2 linked regions of the Homo sapiens genome follow. The protein of the gene in region 2 interacts with the protein of the main gene of each other region in a pairwise test. Each region holds a gene or a part of one and is shown on either strand. Other genes may lie near its edges. The genes, in order: NMI and BRAT1.

Region 1 (16,944 bases), on a different chromosome or scaffold from region 2:
CTGGCTTTTCTCACTGAGTTCTTTTATAATTCTTCTCATCCAAGGTGCTTTGGTAATTTAGATGAGTTTCACGGTTCAAAAAATTGGACATATATTAATCCTCACCATTTAAATTCTCTCCTAAATTTTCCTGTATTTTAATTGTACATAATTTTCACCCATTTTTTTTCTTAACAACTCAGATGTTAAAAAATTAAAGCATTGAGGCTGGGCGCGGTGGCTCATGCCTGTAATCCCAGCACTTTGGGAGGCTGAGGCGGGTGGATCATGGGGTCAGGAATTCACGACCAGCCTGGCTAAGATGGTGAAACCCTGTCTCTACTAAAAAAGAAAAATTAGCCAGGCATGGTGGCGGGTGCCTGTATCCCAGCTACTTGGGAGGCTGAGGCAGAGAATTGCTTGAACCTGGGAGGCGGAGGTCGCGATGAGCTGAGATCACACCACTGTGCTCCAGCCTGGGCGACAGAGCGAGGCGCCGCCTAAAAAAAAAAAAATTAAAGCATTGACACTTCTTGTTTCTGAAGTGGGAGATAGGATATTGAATATCAGGAAGTGAGGTTTTCTGTGTTTATGAGATGGGTGACTTTGTGCAGAAGACTCTGTTAAGATTCTGGTTACTTCTCAGACTGGAGCTAGAATCATGCAGTCTTATAACTCAAAGAGCCTTTAGAAACCGGCCAGCCCTAGTCGACCCACTTTGCAGAGGACCAAACCTGTGATCAGAGAGCTTAAGTAAATTTGCTGTCTGTCGCAGTGTGGTCAGAAATAGAATCAAGCTTTCTCACTCTAATTTCAGAAAGCCCTTGCTCCTCAGCATATACTGGGTATTTCTGCATTATTGGGTAACACTCTGCCTTTACTCAGACATTGTAGACTGTTTTGATGTCAGCCTTACCGTAATCAGAAGTTCCACTGGAGTTATGCATAAAGGCAAAGAATAAATGTAAGATTAAATTGAATGACTCACTGAATATTTCTAATCTCTGTGTTATTTTCAGCATGTAAAATAACCATGGGCAATAGAAATGCAAGCATCTATCTCATTTGTGCATTTATGTGTAGTTATATGAATCTGTTAATCCCAATAATTCTAAGCAGCTAAGTATAACCACCTACCTTTATCTTTCAGGTTACAATTTTTTTTTTTGAAACAGAGTTTTGTTCTTGTTGCCCAGGCTGGAATGCAATGGTGCGATCTCGGTTCACTACAACATCCGCCTCCCTGGTTCAAGCGATTCTCCTGCCTCAGCCTCCTGAATAGCCAGGATTACAGGCGTTTGCCACCACGCCCAGCTAATTTTTGTATTTTTAGTAGAGATGGGTTTTACCATGTTGGCCAGGCTGGTCTCAAACTCCTGACCTCAGGTGATCTGCCTGCTTTGGCCTCCCAAAGTGCTGGGATTACGAGTGTGAGCCACCTGTGTAGCCTCAGCTTACAATTTCTGTTGATACTGTCCCTTCTCATTTTTTATAAACCTAAGTTGTGGTAATGGTTAAAAAGTTGATGGGCAGGTGTTGGGGAAGGTGGAATTTTTAAATTTGATAAATTTAACATCATCTAATTCTGGGCCAGGTGTGGTGGCTCACGCCTGTAATCCCAGCGCTTTGGGAGACCAAGGCAGGCAGATCATGAGGTCAAGAGACCATCCTGGCCAACGTGGTGAAACCCTGTCTTTGCTAAAAATACAAAATACAGAAATTAGCTCGGTGTGGTAGCGCATGCCTGTAGTTCCAGCTACGCGGGAGACTGAGGCAGGAGAATTGTTTGAACCCGGGAGGTGGAGGTTGCAGTGAGCCGAGATCACACCACTGTACTCCAGCCTGGCAACAGAGTGAGACTCTGTCTCAAAATAAATAAATAAATAAATAAAATTATCTAATTCTAGAGTCTTTCTTTTTGGATGAAATTATCTGGATTTGAAATACCATATTATACCCAACACTATATTTCATACTTTGCAGCAAAATTAAACATACTATCTAATGATTTCCTTTTGAGATAGTCTATTATTGGCACTTGTTTAAAAAGTCCTTATTCACATGAATGATGTAGGCTTTAGAACTGAACACCATACAATATTGACAGTTTAAACATTGATTAGAAAAAAGTGAGAGGATTATATATTTTTAATTTCATCTGTGAAATGATATTAAAAGATCAGCATTTGATTACTGAGTACTTACATGGGAAAAAGCAATTACTAAAAATGTTAAATAAGACCATACTCAATATTCTACAAGGTTCTAAAATTAGTGGGGAATGAATTATTGGATGACCAAATTACATTATCATTGGAAGGACTTAAGTTATTTCTCGTCTTGATTTTAATCAAACATTTTCATTTGGATTAGATTAAAGAGGATATTCCTGAAACAAAGATGAAATTCTTATCAGTTGAAACTCCTGAGAATGACAGCCAGTTGTCAAATATCTCCTGTTCGTTTCAAGTGAGCTCGAAAGTTCCTTATGAGATACAAAAAGGACAAGCACTTATCACCTTTGAAAAAGAAGAAGGTATGACTAATGTTAAAAAATATGACCATGTTATTTGGAAAGCACTTTCATAGACATTTAGCTATTACTTCGCTAATATTACTTCACTTATATTATTTCTTATCCTCATAGTGACGTTCTGAGGCAGGTATGATTATTCCCATTTTACAGATGAGAAAACTGACTCTGAGACAAGTGCCTTGAATATGATCTTGTATTCAGAAAGCCATGACTGTGGGACTTAATCCAGGTGCTATGATGATGTCCAATACCAGCCTCTTTCTACTCCACATGCTACCTCCAAATAATGATAGTAATATTTCAAGGTAGTAGAGCTGTACAGTTCTCAGAGACATTATCACATTTTATACTCACACAATTCCATAAATATAGGAGGATAGGATAGTTATTATTGTGTACTTTAAATATAGACATGCCAGAGCCAAGAAAACAGATTCTGAGGATGTTTAAGTGATTTACCTAAGGGAACATAGCCAACGAATGAGAAGAGCCTGGGAGCTAGAGATTTGGAATGAAACCTAATGTTTGCTAAGTCTGCCATGGTGAGGGCCCCTGTTCAGAGCTGGGGGTTCCTGAGTGGGGAGGATCTGGCTTTGAGTGCCAGCCTTGTCCCTTCCTAGAAGCATGATTTGGGATAGGTTCTTTATAAACCTCAGGGTTTTATACAGGTGCTTCATGGTAGTACCTACTTCATGAGGCTGCTTTGAGTATTAAATGAGAAATGTTGATAAAATACTTAGCACAATGTTGGACACTTAATACAAACTTAATGGATGTTAGTTTTTGCTACATGTTAGAAATTTTTCAGATAAGGATACAGAAGCTTAAAGAAGATAATTAACTTGCTTAAAGTCTATACGGTTAGTTGCAGAGCTTAGAGCCAAACCCTGAGAGTCCATGTACTTCCACTGGGCCAATATTTCTCTCGGTAGGCCACCAGCCCAGGCCTTTGTTCTTTTATTTAAGTTATGTGGTGAGGGACCAGATGGTGTTCCCAGCCCTTCCAGTGCTCATATTCTGACAGTCTATAACCCATGTTTCCTCAAAACTGGTGCACCACTGTAGCCTGAAAATAAATGTTGAAAGGCATTCCAGCAGGACAGTATCTGTGCGTAGAAGACATGCATCGCCAGTGTGTTTTCCTTCACCCTGGAGCTACTGCTACAGGTAGAAGAGGAGTCCAGGACTCATACTGGCGACTGGTAATCGGGATATAACTAAAAGATAGATATAAATGAGGATTTGGGAGGCAGGATTTCTGCACAGCAATTTCCTGGGAATGTTGGAAATGGAATTCTCTAAAAGCACCTACATCATTGCTTCTACGCTTGACGTGGCTCTGAGCTCCCAATCTCCTGGGACAGCAGTAGGTTTGAAACACAATTAAGTAGGAGTTGGCTCTTGATTGTCAGAGTCACAACAATTGAGACACAAGCGGTCCCTCTCAGCTGTATCAGATCACCAGATGTTGGGGGTTTGTGGAAGAGTGGGAGGGAAAGAGGATCATCTGAGTATTACTCATTGATATTTTCTGTTATTGTCTGTTGTCATTAGCAAAAAAACACAAAAACACAAAAAAACAAAAAACCATCATCCAAGTTATAGAGTCATATTTTGGTACAGTGAGTTGAATTCCCACATGGCCAAGGCCCTGCCTTCTGGCCCTTTTTTCTCTTCCTCCAGCTGTGGTGTGGTGCCATCTGGTCTGGTTGTCATAAACACATGTGAAGTTTTATAAGACAGAGAGTGAATGTCACTTATTTTCATGATACATTGGAATAGCAGCCCCAAATATCAACAACTGCAGTATTATAAACTCATGCCACACAATTAAAAATAAATGCCCACTCACATTTTTAATTGACATAGAGTTGCCTTTTGGAGTGCTAGTGATTTTTAGCATTTTACTAAACCTCTCCCATTTGCACAGGTAAATTAGACTTGACAGCTTTGTGATCAATATAGCAGGACTATCAACTTTTTAAAGAATGATTTCAAGAGCATTTTTGCAAAAGTGGAATTCGTCATTAAGTATGACCAAAAAAAAGACTCACTCTTTGATGTTCCAGCCTATGTAGTCTTTAACATGTAATCCTTGAGAAGACAGAGCAAATGAATATATATTGCTCTAGTGCTTGTAACATATTAAGGAGTAACAAATGATAAGGTTAAGTAAAATCAAGACTAATTGTACAAATGACACTTAGCCATGAAAGTTTTCCCAGCTTACTGAACATGGGACACTTTCTGGCTGTGCATTAATGTACTAGGGGAATCCTCTGGTAATTGTTAATAGTGGAAGGAAGGGTATGTGGCTGAGCTGAAGTAATATATGAATTCTGGAAGATTGTTAGGCTTATCTCTTAAGAGATAAGAGAAAAGATTCATCTTATGAGAAGAATCTAGAACTTGAGAACTTCTACATTGTGATTTTGCTGATATACTTTGACATTAATATATTCTACTTTGGGACCAAGAGCAGTGGCTCATCCTGATAATACCAGAACTTTGTCTGGGAGTCCGATGCAGGAGGATTGCTTGAGTCCAGGAGTTCCAGAGCAGCCTGGGTAACAAAGTGAGAGCTCGTCTCTACAAAAAGTTAAAAAAATTAGCTAGGCGTGGTGGCATGCACCTGTAATCATAGCTATTCTGGAAGCTGAGGTGGGAGGATCTCTTGAGCCCAGGAGTTTGAGGTTACAGTGAGCTATGATCACATCACTGCATTCCAGCTTCAGTGACAGAATGAGATCTGGTCCTCCTTCCCCCTGACCCCCCAAATTATATATTCTACTTTGGTAGCAAGACCATTATCACTTGGAATCACCGCCCGCCAAATTTTTAAAATTAGACCCTTTAATATTAAAGAAAATTAAAAATATTCAGGATAATTTGTTCTTAAACCAAAAGCATAACAATTCTTAAAATATTGGAAATTAATACTTCCTTCCTGAATTATTTTTCAGTTGCTCAAAATGTGGTAAGCATGAGTAAACATCATGTACAGATAAAAGATGTAAATCTGGAGGTTACGGCCAAGCCAGTTCCATTAAATTCAGGAGTCAGATTCCAGGTAACAGGATGATTAAAATTTTTTGGATTTCTGTTCATCACAAGCACTTCTCTCATCCATATTTCTGAACATCAAATCATTTTCCAGGTTTATGTAGAAGTTTCTAAAATGAAAATCAATGTTACTGAAATTCCTGACACATTGCGTGAAGATCAAATGAGAGACAAACTAGAGCTGAGCTTTTCAAAGTCCCGAAATGGAGGCGGAGAGGTGGACCGCGTGGACTATGACAGACAGTCCGGGAGTGCAGTCATCACGTTTGTGGAGATTGGAGGTACTCAAGGGTGTAGAAGGTTAACAGACACTCTGCCATTTCAGTCATGTTCTGTTGTTTCTGAAAGTATTCCTATTCTACTTCTTTTATTTGGAATGTATTAGCATGATAATTGGGGATTTTAAAAAACCTTATAAAATAGTAGAGTGTAGGAAATTATTTCCAGGGACAGTACTAGGAAAGATAATATTGCTACAAATAGGCAGGGTGCAGTGGCTCACCCCTGTAATCCCAGCACTTTGGGAGGCGGAGGCAGGCGGATCACTTGAGGTCAGGAGTTCAAGACCAGCCTGTCCAACATGGCGAAACCCCATCTCTACTAAAAATACAAAAATTAGCCAGGCATGGTGGCAAGTGCCTGTAATCCCAGCTACTTGGGAGGCTGAGGCAGGGAGAATCACTTGAACCCAGGAGGTGGAGGTTGCAGTGAGCTGAGATCACCAGGCATAGTGGTGCGTGCCTGTGGTCCCAGCTACTCAGGAGGCTGAGGTGGGAGGATTACTTGAGGCCAGGAGGTTGAGGCTGCAGTGACCTGTGATTGCACCACTGCACTACAGCCTGGGAGACAGAGTGAGACCCTGTCTCAAAAAACAAAATTAAAAAAAAAAATTGATGGATTAGATTTTTTCATGACAAAGTAATACATGCTTTTTTAAGGAAGGTGAAATAATACAGAAGAGCAAACATTTAGTAAAAATGAGACATTTCGGCCGGGCCCGGTGGCTCATGCCTGTAATCCCAGCACTTTGGGAGGCCGAGGCAGGCAGATCATGAGGTGAGGAGTTCGAGACCAGCCTGACTAACATGGTGAAACCCCGTCTCTACTAAAAATACAAAAAAATTAGCCAGGTGTGGTGGCGCATGCCTGTAATCCCAGCTACTCGGGGGGCTCAGGCAGGAGAATAGCTTGAACCCAGGAGGTGGAGGTTGCAGTGAGCCGAGACTACGCCACTGCACTCCAGCTTGGGCGACAGAGTGAGACTCCGTCTCAAAAAAAAACAAAAAGAGACATTTCCTCAAACTTCCCTTTCTCCTACTATTTAGTTAGTTATGGTTATTTGGGTGTCTTTCCAGGCTTTTCTCTGGGCACATTAAAACATGTCAATATCCTTTTTTTTTTTTTTTTTTTTTTTTTTTTTGTGAGACAGAGTCTTGCTCTGTCGCCCGGGCTGGAGTGCAGTGGCACTATCTCAGCTCACTGCAACCTCCGCTTCCCGGGTTCAAGCAATTCTCCCACCTCAGCCTCCCGAGTAGCTGGAATTACAAGTGCATGCCACCATGCCTGACTAATTTTTGTATTTTTGGTAGAGACGGGGTTTCACCATGTTGGTCAGGTTGGTCTCGAACTCCTGACTTCAAGTGATACGCCCGCCTTGGCTTCCCAAAGTGCTGGGATTACAAGCATGAGCCGCCGCTCCTGGCCCAATATGCATTTTTGACCTGAGCTTTTGGATGATGTTTAGGACATCCTGGTGGGATGTGTCAGGGAGAGCTATAAAAGGAAGGGGTCTTGAGGGCTACAGTAATATGTTGTCTTGGAAATGAACAATAACTTGGTGGAAACTTCCATAGTCAAGCATCCAGATTTTAATTTGCCAAATTCATATATTCATTTAGCCTGTTTGGTGTTAGTTTGTCTATATCTTGGATTTTAAAAAATCTGGCCAGGCGCAGTGGCTCATGCCTATAATCCCAGCACTTTGGGAGGCGGAGGCGGGTGGATCACTTGAGGCCAGGAGTTCAAGACCAGCCTGGCCAACATCGCGAGACCCCTTCTCCACCAAAAATACAAAAATTAGCGGATGTGCTGGCTCACGCCTATAGTCCCAACTACTTGGGAGGCTGAGGCAGGAGAATTGCTTGAACCTGGGGGGTGGAGGTTGCAGGGAGCTGAGATTGCATCACTGCACTCCAGCCTGGGTGACAGAGTGAGACTCGGTCTCAAAAAAACCGAAATAAAATAAATAAAATAAAATAAACTAGAATGCAATTTATAACTCTACTGTGAGAGATAATACTAGCTTTGGAACCTGTGTCCTTGGGCCATCTGGGGATGTTCTCCTAGAGGTTACATCTAGCCAGATGGGAAAAATACTTCTGCAGGTTATAGGTTATCCAGCAGGTAACTACTGAAGGATGTGAAGGTATTCTGGAGATAAATATGCCAGATACTTCATAAACTGTGTCTTACTGACTCATCACAATAATCTACAGGGTAGGTACTGTAATTATGCTTATTTTACAGAAAAAGAAACTGAGGCTTTAAGAAGTCAAGCAACATATCCAAGGCCACATAGCTCATAAGTAGCAGAGCTAGGACTGAAGCTGGTCTATTTGACTCAGGACCTGTACTCTTTTTTTTTTTTTTAACTGTGATAAAATATATATAACATAAAATTTACCATTTTAACAATTTTTAAATGTACAATTCAAGGGTACTAAGTACATTCACAATGTTGTACAACCATCACCACTATCCATCTCTAGAACTTTTTAATCACCCCAAACTGAAACTCTGTACCCATTTAACAATAATTCTCCATTACCTCTTCTTCCAGCCCCTGGTAACCATCATTCTACTTTCTGTCTCTATGAATTTGCCTATTCTAGGTACCTCATTCAAGTGGAATTATACAATATTTGTCCTTTTCCTGTCTGTCTTATTTTGGTTAGCATAATGTTATCAGGGTCCATCCATGTTGTGGTATGTATCAGAATTTCATCCTTTTTAAAGGCTGAATAATATTCTCTGTGTGTGTGTGTATTTTATATATCCATTTTGTTGATCTGTTCATCTGTTGGTGGATGCTTGGGTTGCTTCCACCTTTTGCCTATTGTGAAAAATACTGCTCTGAGCATTAACGAGCAAGTATCTGTCCGAGTCCCTGCTTTCAGTTGTTTCGGGTATATACCCAGAAGTTGAATTGCTGGATCATATCATGTTCTATTTTAATATTTTGGGGAACTGTCATACTGTTTTCTACAGTGGCTGTACCATTTTACATTTCTATCAGCATTGCCTCAGGGTTTCAATTTCTCCATATTCTCGCCAATGAGGGCCTACACTCTTAATCATTGTACCATATTGCTGATCCAAGGTAGATGAGTGAGAAGAGTCATAAAAAACATGGTTGTATATTCCCAAGAACTGTTTTTGTTAAATGTTACAGTCTTGACACACATCCTTTCACCACTCTAGGAGAAAAAAATACTGCTAAAAAATAGACTATTCTTTGTGTTGTAGAAAACTGATGAATTTTTATTTCCTTTCAGTTTTTCTAGATGACATTCAATCCCCTCCCTGCTTTGGTTAACATCATTACTTCAGTTTATTGAATATATTGAAAAAAATGTATATAGTATTCTAATCATAGTTTTCACTTACAGCTTTTGAGAAACTGGGAAACAGTCCAGTCTTGTTAGATGAGTGGGTTACTTTCTGCAAAAGACTATGGTATTTTTTATAGCTCAAAGTAGATCTGTCTGAGGACATTGCAACCCTTTGTGCATTGATTGACTGCAGTGAATAATTCAAGATGGAATGAAGGCTTTAAACCTCATTATTGTTTGGTCTTGTAGTTTTCAAAATTATGTACTGTGAAGTCTTCAAAGTGGGCTTTAGAATTTCTTAAAAATTAATCTTTTAACTCAATATTTACTGTAATAGTGTTCTCTTTGAAGGAAGTTTTAACTTTGGTTAAAAATGCTTATGATATAAAAAAGACAAGTATTGTTTTTGTTTTGCTTTTAGTGGCTGACAAGATTTTGAAAAAGAAAGAATACCCTCTTTATATAAATCAAACCTGCCATAGAGTTACTGTTTCTCCATACACAGAAATACACTTGAAAAAGTATCAGGTAAAGTCATCTCTGTTCTCTCATTTTCAGAACTCACTGCCCAAACCCACCCCACAAAAAATAAAGTTGTTGTGAGTCTGTTACTTATGCATCTTATCAATGAGGGATAGCAAAATGGTTTCTTTACTTCATTTTTGCTTGGTGCAAAATGAGTTTGTCTTTTGAAGGAGCATTTTAATGCAAAACTGTACTTTATTATACAATTTTTAAAACTGAAATTACTCAGATAATGGCACAATTTTTATTTTTGTACATGGAGACATAGTTGCATTTCTCTCATATGTCTACTGTCAGTGAGCATGAGAAAGAATTCCTGCCTACTTTCTCTGAACTCATTATCTTTACCCCAGACCTGCTCCCTTTTCCTCTTCCTTCTCAGGTATCCAATGGTACCACCATCTACCTACTCCACCAACTTAAAAGCTAGAACTCATACTTAACTCTTCAGTTTGCTTCACCTCCAACATTCATTTGGTCACTAAATCTTGCCAGCTCCACTTCTGACTACCTCTTTACCTGGTCTTTCTGTTCCCAGAGCATCCCTCCTTTCCTCTGTGTTCCATAATGCCACCAGAGTTCTCTTTCTAAAACTCAGATCTGACTTGGATATTCTCTTGCTTGGAAAATCTTCCTAAGATTTCTTGTCTCTTCTAAGATAAAATAAAAAATATTAAGCAGAGATTATGAATGTAAAGTTTTGTAATTCAAAGCTCTTAGAAATCTTTCTATTTATCATTTTTTCCTTCTTAGATATTTTCAGGAACATCTAAGAGGACAGTGCTTCTGACAGGAATGGAAGGCATTCAAATGGATGAAGAAATTGTGGAGGATTTAATTAACATTCACTTTCAACGGGCAAAGAATGGAGGTGGAGAAGTAGATGTGGTCAAGTGTTCTCTAGGTCAACCTCACATAGCATACTTTGAAGAATAGACTTAACAGAATCATGAAAACTATAGCTTTTTAACCCGGATTACTGTAAATGTTTGACAAAAATGAATATGCTTTTCCTTAAAAAATGAAAACTTTAATTTTTACCATCCATTTATGTTTAGATACAAAACTTATTTCCATGTTTCTGAATCTTCTTTGTTTCAAATGGTGCTGCATGTTTTCAACTACAATAAGTGCACTGTAATAAAAAGTTTTGTTTATAGATTATGTGTATTGGTGCCATGTCTGCTGAAATCAACCTTAAGTGATTCAGATGTCCCCTGCCAGTGCTGGCTCATCCTGTTATGGTCTTGTGGGCCAATTCAGTTGTGGCCCCATGCCCACCAATATGCAGACTTGACTCTTAACATTTTCCAAAACAAAGGCAGTTACATTCAGCAGTTGGTGATTCCTGTAAACTCAACTGAAGATTCGAAGGACTTCAAGAGCAACCATTTACCACTGTGCATAGCATTTCACTCCACAACTCTAAAGGTTCTCAGAGCTGAGTGTGATCTTTTTCTTGAATTTCTGTTCACCCAAGTGCCAAGTGTCCCTTGATTCCTTCCAAGCCATCCCCTCTCCAAATAGAGCTCGTAAAGGACTAGCTTTTTCTTTCTTTTGCACTTACAATGGAAACAATTGGTATAAGAGTTTGAAAACCTTGGCATGGAGAGAGAGGTAAATACAAAGTTAGTGACTCATCACTTATCATGCTCGATGCTGGGGAATGACTGGAGGTAAAAACACAGTACCTGCCCTCCAAGGGTTTAAGTTTAGTTGGAAAGAGACCCAGTTTACTAGCATCTCACTGTTTTTAACTTGCAGAAACTTTAATGATAAAATTAAAGATTCCTATTCAGAGAAGGTAAAAGTCTTTTTGGTAAAGAACCTTTAGGCCGGTTGCGGTGGCTCACGCCACCAGCACTTTGGGAGGCTGAGGTGGGCGGATCACTTGAGGTCAGGAGTTCGAAACCAGCCTGGCCAACATGGTGAAACCCTATCTCTACTAAAAATACAAAAATTAGCCGGGCATGGTGGTGGGCGCCTGTAATCCCAGCTACTTGGGAGGCTGAGGCAGAATTGCTTGAACCTGGGAGGCGGAGGTTGCAGTGAGCTGAGATCGTGCCATTGCACTCCAGCCTGGGTGTTGCAGTGAGACTCTGTCTCAAAAAAAAAAAAAAAAAAAGAAAAATAGAAAAAAAACCTTTGGACAACTTCTATTCTGACATGGTAGGTTTCATGAAGAACTGGCAGCAGAATTAAATTCATATTAAAATGCTGGCAGAATGAAAGGCTTTTAGAAAAGGTTCTAAACCTATTGAATGCTGCCTGGCATCTAAAACAAACAAAAGGAAAAGCTCGAGTTTTGCTTCTGATATTTTATTTTTAGTTTTTAAAGTTACATTACTCTCAGGAGTTCTCATTTTCACCTTTCTTTAAAGAATGAGAGATGGTGCCTAAAAACTACAGTTTATGATAAATCTTCATATTTACCATTTAAACAAATCTCTCGTGTCTATTATTCTTTTTAAAATAGAATGACTATTTAAAGCTCTCAAAAATATTAAGAAGAAAACTTTAAAGTAGCTTTTTAATTTCCATTTTGCCAGTCTCACTGGCACAGAAGGTATTGTTGATAGTCTGTGGCAGATTGCCTATCAGGAAGAATTTTATGTTAATATTTATTTAGGACAAAGTTGAAATAGTCACTTTTGTATTTTGGGGGGTCCTCTTCAGGCAGTAAAATTGATAATTCAATTCTAAATTTTCCTATGTGTTTTTTTATAAATATTTCTAGCTTAGAAAATTATACTTTTCTTTTGGATTCCTTTCACCCTCACCCAAGAGCAGTCTGGCTGGATGTCAGAAAACAAGTATTGGCTCTCCTGCTTATTCCTAGAGTTTTAGGGATCTTACAGAAGGACAGCTGTCTTTGAAAACTTATCAAAAGTACATATTGACTGTTTAATATATTGAATATTAAGAAAGGGGCCTTCATATGTATGTCCAAGATGAGCTAACTCCAGACATTGCCAATATGATAAGTCATATAGATACATATGTGGAATTACAAGTTCCTCTTGCTGTTTGTTGATTTATCAGGCAGCACAGGCTAGGTAATGCCACAGTAACAAACAACCTGCCAAACCTCATGGGCCTAAACAATTCTTACCCATGCTGATTATCCAGCACAGGTTGGCAGGGGGACTCTGTTTATCCTCATCACTTAGAGACTCCATTCTTGAGACAAGAATCATGGAGGGTGGAGGAGGGGGAGGAAATGTGAAATCTGGAAAGTCTTGTATCAGCAATTAAATGCTGTGACCCAGAAGTGATTCTTGTCATTTCTTCTCACATCTCATTGGTCAGAAATAGTCACATGGCCCTATTCAAATAGAAGGGACTTGGGCTGGGCATGGTGGCTCATCCATGTAATCCCAGCACTTTGGGAGGCCAAAATAGGAGGATCACTTGAGGCCAGGAGTTTGAGACCAGCCTGGCCAACACAGTGAGACCCCATCTCTATTTAAAATCTAAATACATGTATATATATAAATGCTTATATATCTCTATTTTAAATCCAAATATATATATGGGGACTAGGAAATTCTGTCTTATCAAAAGTTAGGAGAAACAGATATCGCTGAGCCAGAATAATAACCAGCATAGCCTACCTGTCTTACCACCAATATTTAGTTCATTTGTCTTCTCACACAAAATACACTCGTAGTCATCTCATCCTTAAGGGAGAAAAACAAGAAATTCTATCCAATCATGATATTAAACTCAAAGTGCATGAATTCAAAGTGCTCTACATCAGGTCTGAATGTTACTCCTCTTTATGCAGAGACCCTCACACATCCAATATAGAGTAGCGGAACTGGAATAAGATGAGTGCAATAAACTCTTACACTTGGAAAGGGAAAGAATGGGAGACACATAGCCGTCACTGGGCCAAAGCAATTCTGAAATCCCATTCAGTAGATGTGTGCTCCATACTCCCAGGGTGTGGAATTTGGATTAGGCCCTGATTCCATTCTCTAAGAATTCTCTTGCTCATTGTCCTTATGGCTCTTGAACATTCTTCTTCTTCTTTTTTTTTTTGACACGGATTCTCACTCTATCGCCCACACTGGAGTGCAGTGGTGCGATCTCAGCTCACTGCAACCTCCGCCTCCCAGTTGAACACTCTTCTTTTTCCATTATTCTTCTTGGCCATATCTAGAATGGGCATTTGAAATCTCTTGGAATCTGAAAAGCTTCCCTAGTGCACTTCCTATGGTCAATGTTTGTGACCAAAGTTATAAAGTTTTGAACAGTCATGGTCTCTTTAGTCTGGAGTGGTGGTTATTTAGCTGGTAAAATGGAAAAACTCAATAGGCATCTTGTCTATTTTATTCTGGTAAGCTTACACATCCACAGTTCTTTTCTAGACTTACTTTTTAGAGTTGCTACTGTTCTCTGCTTTCTTAGCCTCATGCTTCTTTCACTCTCCTCATTTAATTATAGATACTTTGGGTCTATCAGGCCACACTTTTGCTTTCATTTCCTTGAGCTATTTTGTCCAGTTGAAAGGGTTTATTGTATTCCACAACCTTAATTGGTGTTTTCGCTCTGAGGGATCCTAATCTATTTAGAGATTTACACCTTGATTTGATCCCCGCGATAAACCGGAGTTCTAATCAATCTTTGTTACTCAACAGGCTTCTTGGTTTTATTGTTTATTATTTGGGAATGAGAAATGTTTCTTCCAGCCCCATAAGTTGGAAGTTCATATTTCTGGACTTTCTCTATTCCCTTTCATTCCTGCTTTCAAACTGGCCAGTTCTTTTCTAAAGTCATTTCTTTCTTATATTATTTGTTAAATGCACTCAATGATAACAGAAAAATGCTAATAACTTTCTGCTTCCCATACTTAAAAAATAACAACCCCAAAACCACAAGCTAATTAGGTACATTATTTGCTTTCCAAGCTATCACATGACAGTTTTACAAAGTACTTTTATACTGCATAATGTGGGTCACCATCCTTCTAATCTCTGATAACTATTTTCTTCTTATCTGCCACTTGGCCTCTAAGCCAAAGTCATGTATTTCAAGTAGTGTTTGGATTGTGTGGTTTTTTTTTTGGCCATAGCAGTACTCCATTTCAGAATACCAATTTCTGTATCAATCAGAATAGGCTATGTGATGCTGATGTGAAAAATTTTTAAATTTAAAATTTTTAAATTTTAAATCTTTTTAAATTTCAGAGACTTAAAGCAACACACATTTATTCCTTCCTCAAGCTACATGGCCATTGATGGTTCAACAAAAAGAGCTCTGCTCATGGTAAACACTTAGGGACCCAAACTCATGGCAGCCACCATCTTTACTATTGCTAGATGTTATGCCAGAGGAAGAAAAGAGCTTTGAAGGGTCTTTAACTGGTAATTAAATTTTTGGCCCAGAAATGATACTTGTCACTTCCACTCACAACTCAGAACTAAGCATATGGACCTACCCAACCATAAAGGAGCCTGGATGTTCATTCTTACCATATGGTTGGAAGGCAGAAAGCCAAAACTGTATGGGAAATAGCATTAATGATACCTGCTTGGTATTAAAAAAGAAAAGATGCTCAATCTTGAAAAATACACATAGTATTATGGAGATAATAAAAATCACCAAAAGTACACATCCAGAGATAATGGTAAATATTTTTGTGTTCTCTTTTCTATTCTTTTTTTCCTTCTAACCACATCACATTTAATGCTGTAAATATACCCATATACCCTATGCTATTTGTCACTTCCTTATTGTTGGGAATAAGGTTGCTTCTAATTTCTTCACACTTATAAATATTCTGATGTACGTAAGTCCTTATATGTCTTGGTACATAAGACATTTTCTGCAGTTCTGACCTTACTTCAAGGTGATAATTGCTAGGTTGAAAGGCAGAAGGACGAAAAACTCTTTTAAGGATCTTGTTAAGTGAGGCCAGAATTGCTTACTAGAAAGGTAGGCATTGGTTTGTACTTTCATTAACAGTGTAACCAAGCACTATCTCATTGCTCCATTTCAGCACTGAATACTACTTATCTAAACATGTTTTCTTTATTCTATTTTTGGAAATTTTCATAACACATCCCAGGGTTTTATGAAAATAAGTAATTACCAAGATACGGGTGAAACATCCTGTAATGGGTTTTGCTTTAGTTTTTTGGTGTCACAAATGAAAAACGTTCAGGAAAATGTTGATTTTATTTCTTTCTTTCTTTAGAGATGGAGTCTCGCTCTGTCACGCAGGCTGGAGTGCAGTGGCACAGTCTCAACTCACTGCAACCTCCATCTCCCGGGTTCAAGCGATTCTTCTGCCTCAGCCTCCTGAGTAGCTGGGACTACAGGGGCAAGCCACCACGCCCGGCTGATTTTTTTGTATTTTTAGTAGAGACGGGGTTTCACCTTGTTACCCAGGATGGTCTCCATCTCCTGACCTCGTGATCCGCCTGCCTCGGCCTCCCAAAGTGCTGGGATTACAGGCATGAACCACTGCGCCCGGCCCTCCAATTTGATTTTATTAAAGCTTCAAGACAGAAAAGTACAGTGAGGCAAGAGGCCTTATAATTGGGGCTATAAGATGTTAAAAGATTTTCTTGAATGCAGTTTTAGTTAGTAATATGCTGCTAAAATAATTTTGCCACATTTGGAGTCCTCTTTCTTCAAGGGTGTTGGAATAGTTTGGCATATATATGATTAAAGGTTACTGTAGGTCATGTTCGATGGCACAGATAGGTTGACCTGGATTCCCAACTCTAATCCTAGACCTCTCATCATTTTCTGGAGAGAATGGAGACTTCAGTTATGAGTTGGGGAAAGCAAGAAAGACATTCAATATAAACAAACATATAAAGATATTTTCAGAAAGAGGCCAGGGCTATTAAGATGGTATAACGGGGTGATGGAATGATTAAGTAGGAAGATAGACTGGGTGATTAGAGCTAGTCTTTCTGAAGAGAGGTTATTGTGTTGGAGGCTGAAAGATCGAGGGGCATGACTGCCCTCAGCATTCCTTCTGGGTGGCATACTCAGTTTGTCAGTTTGCCAACATTCTGCATTTATGAGAACAGTTTGCTGTTTACCCATACAGCCTCCAGTGGTATACTGAGTTGATCACGACCCTCAGTCTTTCGGCTTTAACATTATTGTAGCTAAGACCCAAGTGACAGCAGGAGCCAGTCAAGTGAAGATCAGGGCGGAGCTATTGAGGCAGGGACACAGTACATAGGTCAGGCAAAACTCCCAGGCTGA
Region 2 (9,714 bases):
CCCCTCCGCACCCCCCTGCTGGCTTCAGGACGTCAAATGCAGCCACCACTTGACGCTGGGAGGGACAGAAACTTTCCAGCCCAGGCTGGCCCTGGGGCATGGGTAGACATCCCCTTGCACACATGGCTGACCCCGGAACTCAAAGATGCCCCTGACTCTGGCCCACCTGCAGCCTGGGCCAGCACCACGCTGTTGCCCCGACTGCACCAAAGACCAAGGGTGACAGACTTTGAGTTCCGGAGGCCTTGTGGTTTCAGCTAGACCCTCATCTGCCCCTTTCAGCCCCGCCACCAGCGCTCAGGGCCCCACCTAGACCAAAGCTTTGCATCCATCCCTGCAGTACAGACCTCTGGTCTGGGGATCATGGTTCTCCTGGTCTGAGATGAAAGTTCTGGGGCCCCTTCCCAGGCCTGAGCAGGCATGGTGGGCTGCTGTGACTAGAGCGAGCTGGGTCTGGAGTGGGCATTGAGGTTTGGCTCTCACATTGCCTTTGCAGGGCCTGCGGCCTCACCATGGACCCAGAATGCGCCCAGCTGCTCCCGGCTCTCTGTGCTGTTCTGGTAGATCCCAGGCAGCCGGTGGCAGATGACACCTGTTTGGAGAAGCTCCTGGACTGGTTTAAAACGGTCACTGAAGGAGGTAAGGAGGTGGTGCTGCTGTTTACTGCCTATCCAGAGACCAGACGCAGAGGCTGGGACAGGGAGCAGGGGCCAGATGGGGACTCCCCTGTCCTGGAGGAAGGGCAGAAACTGCCAATCAGATGTCTTTCCTTCACTTCCTAAGGATTATCTGTGGCAGACTGAGGGCAAGTTAAGATGAAGCCCGAGAGAATGATCTGGAGAGTTAGAGCCTGAAATTCAGCCAGTTGAGCCACGATCAGGGCACCCCAAGGTTCAGTTCTACAGAAGGCGTGAACAAACTTGTTTTATTGTTGTTCTCGTTGTATTTAGTGTGTTTAAGACATCAGATTTGTTTTCTTTCTGATTATGAAAGTAGGGGCCGGATGCAGTGGCTCATACCTGTAATCCCAGCACTTTGGGAGGCTGAGGCGAGCGGATTGCTTAAGTCCAGGAGTTCAAGACCAGCCTGGTCCAACATAGCGAGACGTCATCTCTAAAAAAAAAAAAAACAAAAATTAGCTGTGCCTGGTGGCGCACCTGTAGTCCCAGCTACTCTGGAGGCTGAGATGGGAGGATCCTTTGAGTCCGGGAGGTAGAGGTTGCAGTGAGCTATGATTGTGCCACTGCACCCTGACCTGGGTGATAGAGTGAGACCCTGTCTCAAAAAAAAAAAACAAAGTAATACATGTTCTTTAAAACATGAACAAAAGAGTAAAGAGGAAAATTAAACCATCAACGTTTTAATTTACTCCCAGCCTTTTCATAACACATAAAGCTGTATTTTTCTGGGGAAAAAAAAATGAGGTCATACTGTAAACACAATTTTGGTGTCTTGCTTTCTCTCTTGCTATCATAGTGAGTGTTTTCTCCACATAATATGTTAATGTTATTGACTACATGTTATTTGCTGTAGGAATAGACCATAATTAATTGAATCACTCCACTGTCAGATGTTTATATTTCTCATTTTTCATCATTTTAAGTAGTGTCATAGGTCAGGCGCGGTGACTCATGCTTGTAATCCCATCACTTTGGGAGGCCAAGGCGGGTAGGTCACTTGAAGTCAGGAGTTCGAAACCAGCCTGGCCAACATGGTGAGACCTCGTCTCTACTAAAAATAAAAAAATTAGCCGGGCATGGTGGCATGCGCCGTAATCCCAGCTACTTGGGAGACTGAGGGGGAGGATCGCTTGAACCCAGGAAGCGGAGGTTGCAGTGAGCCCAGATCGTGCCACTGCACTCCAGCGACAGAATGGACTCTGTCTCAAAAAAATAGTGTCAGTCGAGCGCGGTGGCTCAAGCCTGTAATCCCAGCACTTTGGGAGACCGAGGCAGGCAGATCACGAGGTCTGGAGATCAAGACCCTCCTGGCTAACATGGTGAAACCCCGTCTCTACTAAAAATACAAAAAAAAAAAAAATAGCCAGACGTGGTGGTGGGCGCCTGTAGTCCCAGTTACTTGGGAGGCTGGGCAGGAGAATGGCGTGAACACAGGAGGCAGAGCTTGCAGTGAGCCGAGATCACGCCACTGCACTGCAGCCTGGGCGACAGAGCGAGATTCCGTCTCAAAAAAAAAAAAATAGTGTCATAATGGCTTTCCTTTTACATAAATATTCTCGCATGTAAATGTTTATTCTCATGGTTGATAATTGCATTGGGATAGACTGCATGTTGTTAATTTCTGCTATTCTTTACTTCCTTTTTTTGGTTTACCGTGTTCTTTTATTCTTTTTATTTTTAAATTATATTGTATTTTTTTTTTTAAGGATGGGGTCTCACCGTATTGCCCAAGCTGTTTTCGATCTCCTGGGCTCAGGCAGTCACCTGCCTCTGCTTCCCAAAGTGCCTTTTACCCTCTTTGAGCTAAATATCTAGGTCTTCCTTGTTTTCTAATATATATATTTAAGGCCAGGCACGGTGGTTCATGCCTATAATCCCAGCACTTTGGGAGGCTGAGGCAGGCAGATCACTTGAGGTCAGGAGTTGGAGACCAGCCTGGCTAACATGGTGAAACCCCGTCTCTACTAAAAATACAAGAATTAGCCTGACATGGTGGTCCATGCCTGTAATCCCAGCTACTCGGGAGGCTGAAGCAGGAGAATCACTTGAACCTGGGAGGCAGAGGTTGCAGTGAGCCGAGATAACGCCATTGCACTCCAGCCAGGGCAATGGAGTGAGACTCTTGTCTCAAAAAAAAAAAAAAAAAAAAAAAAAAAATATATATATATATATATATATATATTTAAGACTATGCATTTCTCTAAAAGTATGACTTTAGCTACATCTTACACGTTTTACATTGCAGTACTTTGGTTTTAATTTAGTTCTGAGTATTTTATGCTTTTCATTATAATTTTTTTTTCACCCACAAGTTACTTAAAAGAGTATCCTTTAGTTTCAAAATATGGATTTTTCCAGTCTTTTTATTATTGATTTTTAATTTACTTTGTGGAGGTTAGAAAACATAACATATGTTTTGAATCTTTATAGCTGTTGAGACTTTTATTGAGACATAGGACCCAGGCGAGTTTTCTCAATGTTCTAGAGATTTCACTATATGATTTTGATGTTTTGGTATTTGAAGGTCTTCAACTGTGGCCTAGTTTGTAGTAGTCAGTTTTTCTTTTTCTTTTTTTTTTTTTTTGAGCCAGGGTTTTTGCGCGTCACCCAGGATGGAGTGCAATGGCGTGAACACGGCTCACTGCAGCCTTGACCTCCTGGGCAGTCCGCCTGCCTCATTCTCTTGAGTTCCTGGGATCAAGGTGTGTACCAGGCCCAGCTATTTTTTTTTTTCCCATAGAGATGAGGTCTCACCATCTTGTCCAGGCCAGCTTGGAACTCCTGGGCTCAAGCAGTCTTCCCGCCTGGGCTTCCCAAAGTGCTGGGATTACAGGAGCGAGCCACCATGCCTGGCCTGTATTTAAATTTTAAGAAGTATTTTTCAGTAGCTTTATTGAGATATAATTTGCATACCATGCCATTCTCCCATTTAAGGTGTACCAGATCCTTTTACAGTTTGTAAGCATGAGATATATATATATCTATATATAGATATATATATAGATATAGATTTTTTTTTTTTTGAGACCAAGTCTTGCTCTGTTGCCCAGGCTGGGGTGCAATGGCACAATCTTGGCTCACTGCAACCTCCGCCTCCTGGGTTTCAAACGATTCTCCTGCCTCAGCCTCCTGAGTACCTGCGATTAAAGGTGCATGCCACCATGCCCGGCCAATTTTTGTATTTTTAGTAGAGGTGGGATTTCATCATGTTGGCCAGGCTGGTCTCGAACTCCTGACCTCAGGTGATCCCTCCACCTTGGCCTCCCAAAGTGCTGGGGTTACAGTGGAGAGCCACTGCACCCAACCTAAGCATGATAATTGAGTGTTCAGGCGCATGTGTGAGATGTGGCACCATGGAACCCTGGTATGATGTCGGTACGTGACCCGTCTGACATGAGAAATGGACAAAATAAATAAATAAATGGTACCAATTCAACAGTTCTTAGTAAATTTACAGGGCTCTGAAATCATCAGCACAATCTAATTTTGTTCCCCCTAAAGAAACCGAGTCTGGGTTCACAGTGAGTCCCTGTTTCCTCCTCCCTCCCAGCCTCTGTCATTTCTCCTGCATTGTACTTGATGGAAAGAGTGTAGTTTCCACACTCGTTCATTAGTTCAGACCTGCTATGTTCTTGCTAATTTGTTTGCTTGTTTCTGAGAGGTGTGTAAAAAGCTTACACCAAGATCATGGATTCATGATTTTTCTTTGAGATGCATCCTTTTTTTTTTTTTCGCTTTACATATTATTTTTTTCTTTTTCTTTTCTTTCTTTTTTTTTTTTTGTTTTTTTTTTTTTGAGATGGAGTCTTGCTCTATTGCCCAGGCTGGAGTGCAGTGGCATGATCTCGGTTCACTGCAGCCTCGACTTCTTGGGCTCAGATGATTCTCTCACCTCAGCCTCCCTAATAGCTGGGACCACAGGAGCCCGCCACCACGCCCGGCTAAGTTTTTGTATTTTTTGTAGTGACGGGGTTTCACTATGTAGCCCAGGCTGGTCTCAAACTCCTGGGCTCAAGCAGTCTGCCCGCCTTGGCCTCTCAAATCGCTGCAATTACAGGTGTGAGGCACTGTGCCTGGCATTTTTTTTTTCTTTTTTTTTTGGAGACAGGGTCTCACTCTGTCACTCAGGCTAGAGTGCAGTGGTGTGATCACGGCTCACTGTAGCCTCAACTTCCTGGGCTCAAGTGATCCTCCCACCCCAGCCTCCTGGATGGCTGGGACTACAGGGACACACCACCACACCCAGCTAATTTTTTGTATTTTTTTGCGGAGACGGGGTTTCACCACGTTGCCCAGGCTGCTTTACACGTTTTGAAGTGAGGTTAGGTATACATAGATGTAGGAATGTTGTGTCTTTCTGGAATTTATCTCCGTGATCAGTTAACTTACTTCTGCATGAATACTGCTTTTTGCTTTACAGCCCATTTTGTTTGCTATTTCTGTTGCTACATCAGCTTCTTTAAAGTTAGAATTTGCCTACTGTGTCTTTTCTCTCCTGCTCCCAGCCTTTCCTGTCGTTGCATTTTATTGCTTTTAGAAACACCACATTGCTTGTTTTTAGTGTTTAATTTAATCTCAGCAACTCTTTCTTTTAACAGATAAGTTTGATCTCTTTAATTTGTTGAGGCGACTGTTAGATTTGAATTCTTTTGTATTTTTTAATTTCCTGTGCCTTACCTTTGTGCCTTTATCCTCCTTTTCTGCCCTCCATCAGATTGATAAAGCTTTTTTTTTTCTTTTAAATCTTTCCTCTTCTGGTTTTGAAGTTATACATTCTATTTATGTTCTTCTTTTTAGACAAGTTCTTGTGCTGTTGTCCAGGACAGTGGTGTAATCACGGCTCACTGCAGCCTTGACCTCCTGGGCTCAGGTGATCTTCCCATCTCAGCTTCCAGTGTAGCTGGGACTATAGATGCGCGCCACCATGCCCAGCGAATTTTTATAGAGAGGGGATCTTCCTGTGTTGCCCAAGCTGGTCTTAAAACTCCTGGGCTCAGGCAATCTGCCCACCTCGGCCTCTCAAGATGCTGGGACCACAGGCTTATTTGTGTTCTTCAGTGGCTACCCTTATATTTTTAACATGAGAACCGGATTTTTTAAAAAGTCTGAAGTTAATTAGACTTTCCATTCTCTATCCAGGCAACCGAAGGACCTCAGAGCACTTGAACTTCAGGCCATCACAACCTTCTATTATTGTCGTTAGTATTTTAATTCTGTTTTGTTTCAAAACCCTTCAACAATGATTTTTTAGATTTTGAACTCAGTGGCATTGTTTTTTGTTTGTTTGTTTGTTTGTTTTTGAGACAGAGTCTTGCCCTGTCACCAGGCTGGAGTGCAGTGGTGCGATCTCGGCTCACCGCAACCTCCACCTCCCGAGTTCAAGCAGTTCTCCTGCCTCAGCCTCCCAAATAGCTGGGACCACAGGCGCCCGCCACCATGCCTGGCTAATTTTTTATATTTTAGTAGAGACAGGGTTTCATTCACCATGTTTGCCAGGATGGTCTCAATCTCCTGACCTCGTGATCTGCCTGCCTTGGCCTTCAAAAGTGCTGGGATTACAGGCGTGAGCCACCACGCCCCGCCTTTTTTTTTTTTAGAGAGACAGGGTCTCCCTCTGTCGCCCAGGCTGGAGTACAGTGGTGCAGTGATAGCTTGCTGCAGCCTCGAACTCCTGGGCTCAAGCAATCCTCCCGTCTCAGCCTCCTGAGTAGCTGGGACTGCAGATGTGTGCCACCATGCCGGGCTAATTTTTTTTTATTTTTTGTAGAGACAGGGTCTTGCTATGTTGTTCTCCTGCCTTGGCCTCCCAAAGTGCTGGGACTACAGGTATGAGCACCTCACCCAGCCTGCAGTGCTGATTCAGGTGGACATAGTGCTTTTTGGGTCCTGGCCTGGTTCTCCTCCTCTGCATGCTCCTCACTCTCCTTACTGAACCACATTCTTTCCACAGGGGCTTCTCACTGGGAAACTCTCCCAACCTTTGCCTCAAAATGTCTTTTTCCCCCACTGGTGCTTTTGAGCGATAGCATAGCTGGTTATAGAAATACAGGATGCCAGTTCTGGAGAGGAATGTTTGTTCCATTGTACCTGCTTGCATGGAGCACTGTCTAAGGAAAAGTACCCATTTGGAAGGTGAAAATGCTCTTCCACTTTTTTTTTTTTTTTTTTTTGGAATGGAGTCTCGCTCTGTCGCCCAGGGCTGGAGTGTGCCGTGTGCAATGACGTGGTCTTGGCTCACTGCAGCCTCTGCCTCCCAGGTTCAAGCGATTCTCCTGCCTCAGCCTTCCAATTAGCTGGGACTACAGGCATGAGCCACCACACCTGGCTAATTTTTTGTATTTTTAGTAGAGATGGGACTTCGCCATGTTGGCCAGGCTGGTCTCGAACTCCTGAGCTCAAGTGACCACCCGCCTTGGCCTCCTAACGTGTTGGGATTACAGGCGTGAGCCACCACGCCCAGCCTGGTCTTTCACTTTAATTTGCATTTCTTTTTCACTATCAGTGAGACAGAACATTTTTTCAGCATTTTTGGCCATTCACCTGTTGTGAAAGGTGACAGTGTTCCGCCTTTCACCTGTTGTTAAGGTGTTGGCTTTCTAGCCCTTACTGAATTAAAATTATGAGTCATTTGCCGTATTTGTTGCAGATATTTTTTTCCCAGTTGGATCCCTAAATCTAACACCCTGCAAGAAAAGGGTCTGGGAATTGCTAGGAGAAGAGCGGTCATCCAGGGGGACACCTGGTGCCGTACCCCTGGTGACCCCTGGGCTGGGCCATCCCCACAGAGTCCAGTGTCGTGCTGCTGCAGGAGCACCCCTGCCTGGTGGAGCTGCTGTCCCATGTGCTGAAAGTCCAGGACCTGAGTTCTGGGGTCCTCTCCTTCTCACTGCGCCTGGCAGGAACCTTCGCAGCCCAGGAAAACTGCTTCCAGTATCTTCAGGTGAGCCTGGGGCCTCCCACCTGAGTGTCCCGTGGAGAGGTGGGCAGGCTTTTCCTCCCGCAGCCAGGTGGGGCATTTGTAGCCATCACCATCCCAAGTCCCAGCGGCCTGCCCCGACCCTGTGTCCTCACTAGAACTGCATGTTTTTTACCCCCGACTGTAGCCCCCTTTGAAAAATTCGCCCGGAGTGATGCTGGGGCTAAGGAGTTGAGGTTTTTTGGAATAAGATGACTGGCACGGGCTCCCAGCTCTGACCAGCTGTCTGAGCTTGCCCACGGCCGCAAGCCTCCATCTCTTCCTGGGACGGAGACAGGAGTCGCAGCTGCGCCGTGGCCTCCGTCTCTTCCTGGGACGGAGACAGGAGTCGTAGCTGCCCCGTGGCCCCCGTCTCTTCCTGGGACGGAGACAGGAGTCGTAGCTGCGCCGTGGGGTTGTCGTGAGGACCAAATGAGACCGCACATCCTGCACCTCCAGCGACCCAGCCTACAAATGAATGAATAACTAATGAGAATGTGAATGACTAATGAGAATGTCTTTTTTTTAAAAAATTAATTTTATTTATTTTTATTTTATTTTATTATTATTTTTCGAGACAGAGTCTTGCTCTGTCACCCAGGCTGGAGTGCAATGGTTCGAACTCAGCTAACTGCAGTCTCCACCTCCCAGGTTCAAGCGATTCTCCTGCCTCAGCCTCCCGAGTATCTGGGACTACAGGCACCTGCCACCACGCCCAGCTAATTTTTGTAGTTTTAGTAGAGACAGGATTTCACCATTTTGGCCAGGCTGATCACGAACTCCTTGACCTCAAGTGATCCGTCTGCCTCGGCCTCCCAAAATGCTAGGATTACAGGCGTGAGCCACCATACCCGGCCTTTTTTTGTTTTGTTTTTTAGAGACAGAGTCCTGCTCTGTCGTCCAGGCTGGAGTGCAGTGGCAGCTCACTGCAGCCTTGACCTCCTGGGCTCAAGTGACCCTCCCCATTCAGCTTCCCGAGTAGCTGGGTCCACAGGTGCATGAACCACACCTGGCTAACTTTGTTATCTTTGGTAGAGATGGGGTCTCACTATGTTGCCCAGGCTGGTCTCAAACTCCTGGTCTCAAGCGATCATCCTGCCTCGGCCTCCCAAAGTGTTGGGATACAGTCGTGAGCCACTGCTCCCAGCCAAGAATTTCTACATAGCAAGGCATGAGAGCTCGAGAGCCTCCCAGAGCTGTGTCTTCCAGCTTCAAGTGCCTCAGACAGGCACCGCTGAGTCTGTCGGGATGCGTGGTGTGAGCTTCAGGGCCCTTGCCCGTCTACCACGACGGCTTCTCTTGGTGCCTCACAGGCCCTCGCCAGGTTGTGCGAAGGCACATCCAGTACCGTTAGCTTGCCGTTCACGATGCCCCCCAGTTAAGCAGCTGCAGGCTCCCTAGCAGCCCACCCAGGCACCATCTTGCTGCAGGACAGACTTTCCAAGGTGTCCTAGGGTGCTGCCGTACAGTGAATCCGGGGGCCCTTGTCTGTCAGCAGCTGGTATGAAAGTACCCTCCAGGCTGGGCACGGTGGCTCATGCCTATAATCCCAGCACTTTGGGAGGCTGAGGCAGGCGGATCACCTGAGGTCAGGAGTTCGAGACCAGGCTAACCAACATGGTAAAGCCCTGTCTCTACTAAAAATGAAAAAATTAGCTGGGTGTGGTGGTGGGCACCTGTAATGCCAGCTACTCAGGAGGCTGAGACAGGAAAATAGCTTGAGCCCAGGAGGCAGAGGTTGCAGTGAGCCGAGATGTGCCACTGCACTCCAGCCTAGGCAACAGAGTGGGACTGTCTCAAAAAAAAAAAAAAGAAGAAGAAAGTGTCCTCCAGAAGTATCTCCACCAGCCCTGGAAAACTGAAAACCCATCTCTGCTTTGCTCCACATCCCTGGAAACCTACCAGGTCCCCTCACCTCTTTTTTTTTTTTTTTTTTTTTTTTTTTGAGATGGAGTCTCGCTGTGTCACCCAGGCTGGTGTGCAGTGGTGCGATCTTGGCTCACTGCAACCTTCGCCTCCCGGGTTCAAGCAATTCTCCTGCCTCAGCCTTCTTAGTAGCTGGGATTACAGGTGCATGCC

What was found.
Region 1: the proteins of BRAT1 (region 2) and NMI interact in binary tests that used the Homo sapiens proteins (3 or more experiments, as listed by UniProt).

What each region holds. Positions count from the first base shown.
Region 1 is NC_000002.12:151,264,399-151,281,342, reverse strand, and holds the end of NMI (N-myc-interactor), read left to right. Parts: intron 1-2,352; coding exon 2,353-2,515; intron 2,516-5,478; coding exon 5,479-5,585; intron 5,586-5,672; coding exon 5,673-5,859; intron 5,860-9,610; coding exon 9,611-9,717; intron 9,718-10,467; coding exon 10,468-10,650; 3' UTR 10,651-10,873; downstream 10,874-16,944. UniProt on the Homo sapiens protein: Acts as a signaling pathway regulator involved in innate immune system response.
Region 2 is NC_000007.14:2,545,230-2,554,943, reverse strand, and holds part of BRAT1 (integrator complex assembly factor BRAT1), read left to right. Parts: intron 1-496; 5' UTR 497-512; coding exon 513-639; intron 640-3,978; exon of another isoform or gene 3,979-4,074; intron 4,075-5,819; exon of another isoform or gene 5,820-5,878; intron 5,879-7,465; coding exon 7,466-7,620; intron 7,621-9,714. UniProt on the Homo sapiens protein: Component of a multiprotein complex required for the assembly of the RNA endonuclease module of the integrator complex.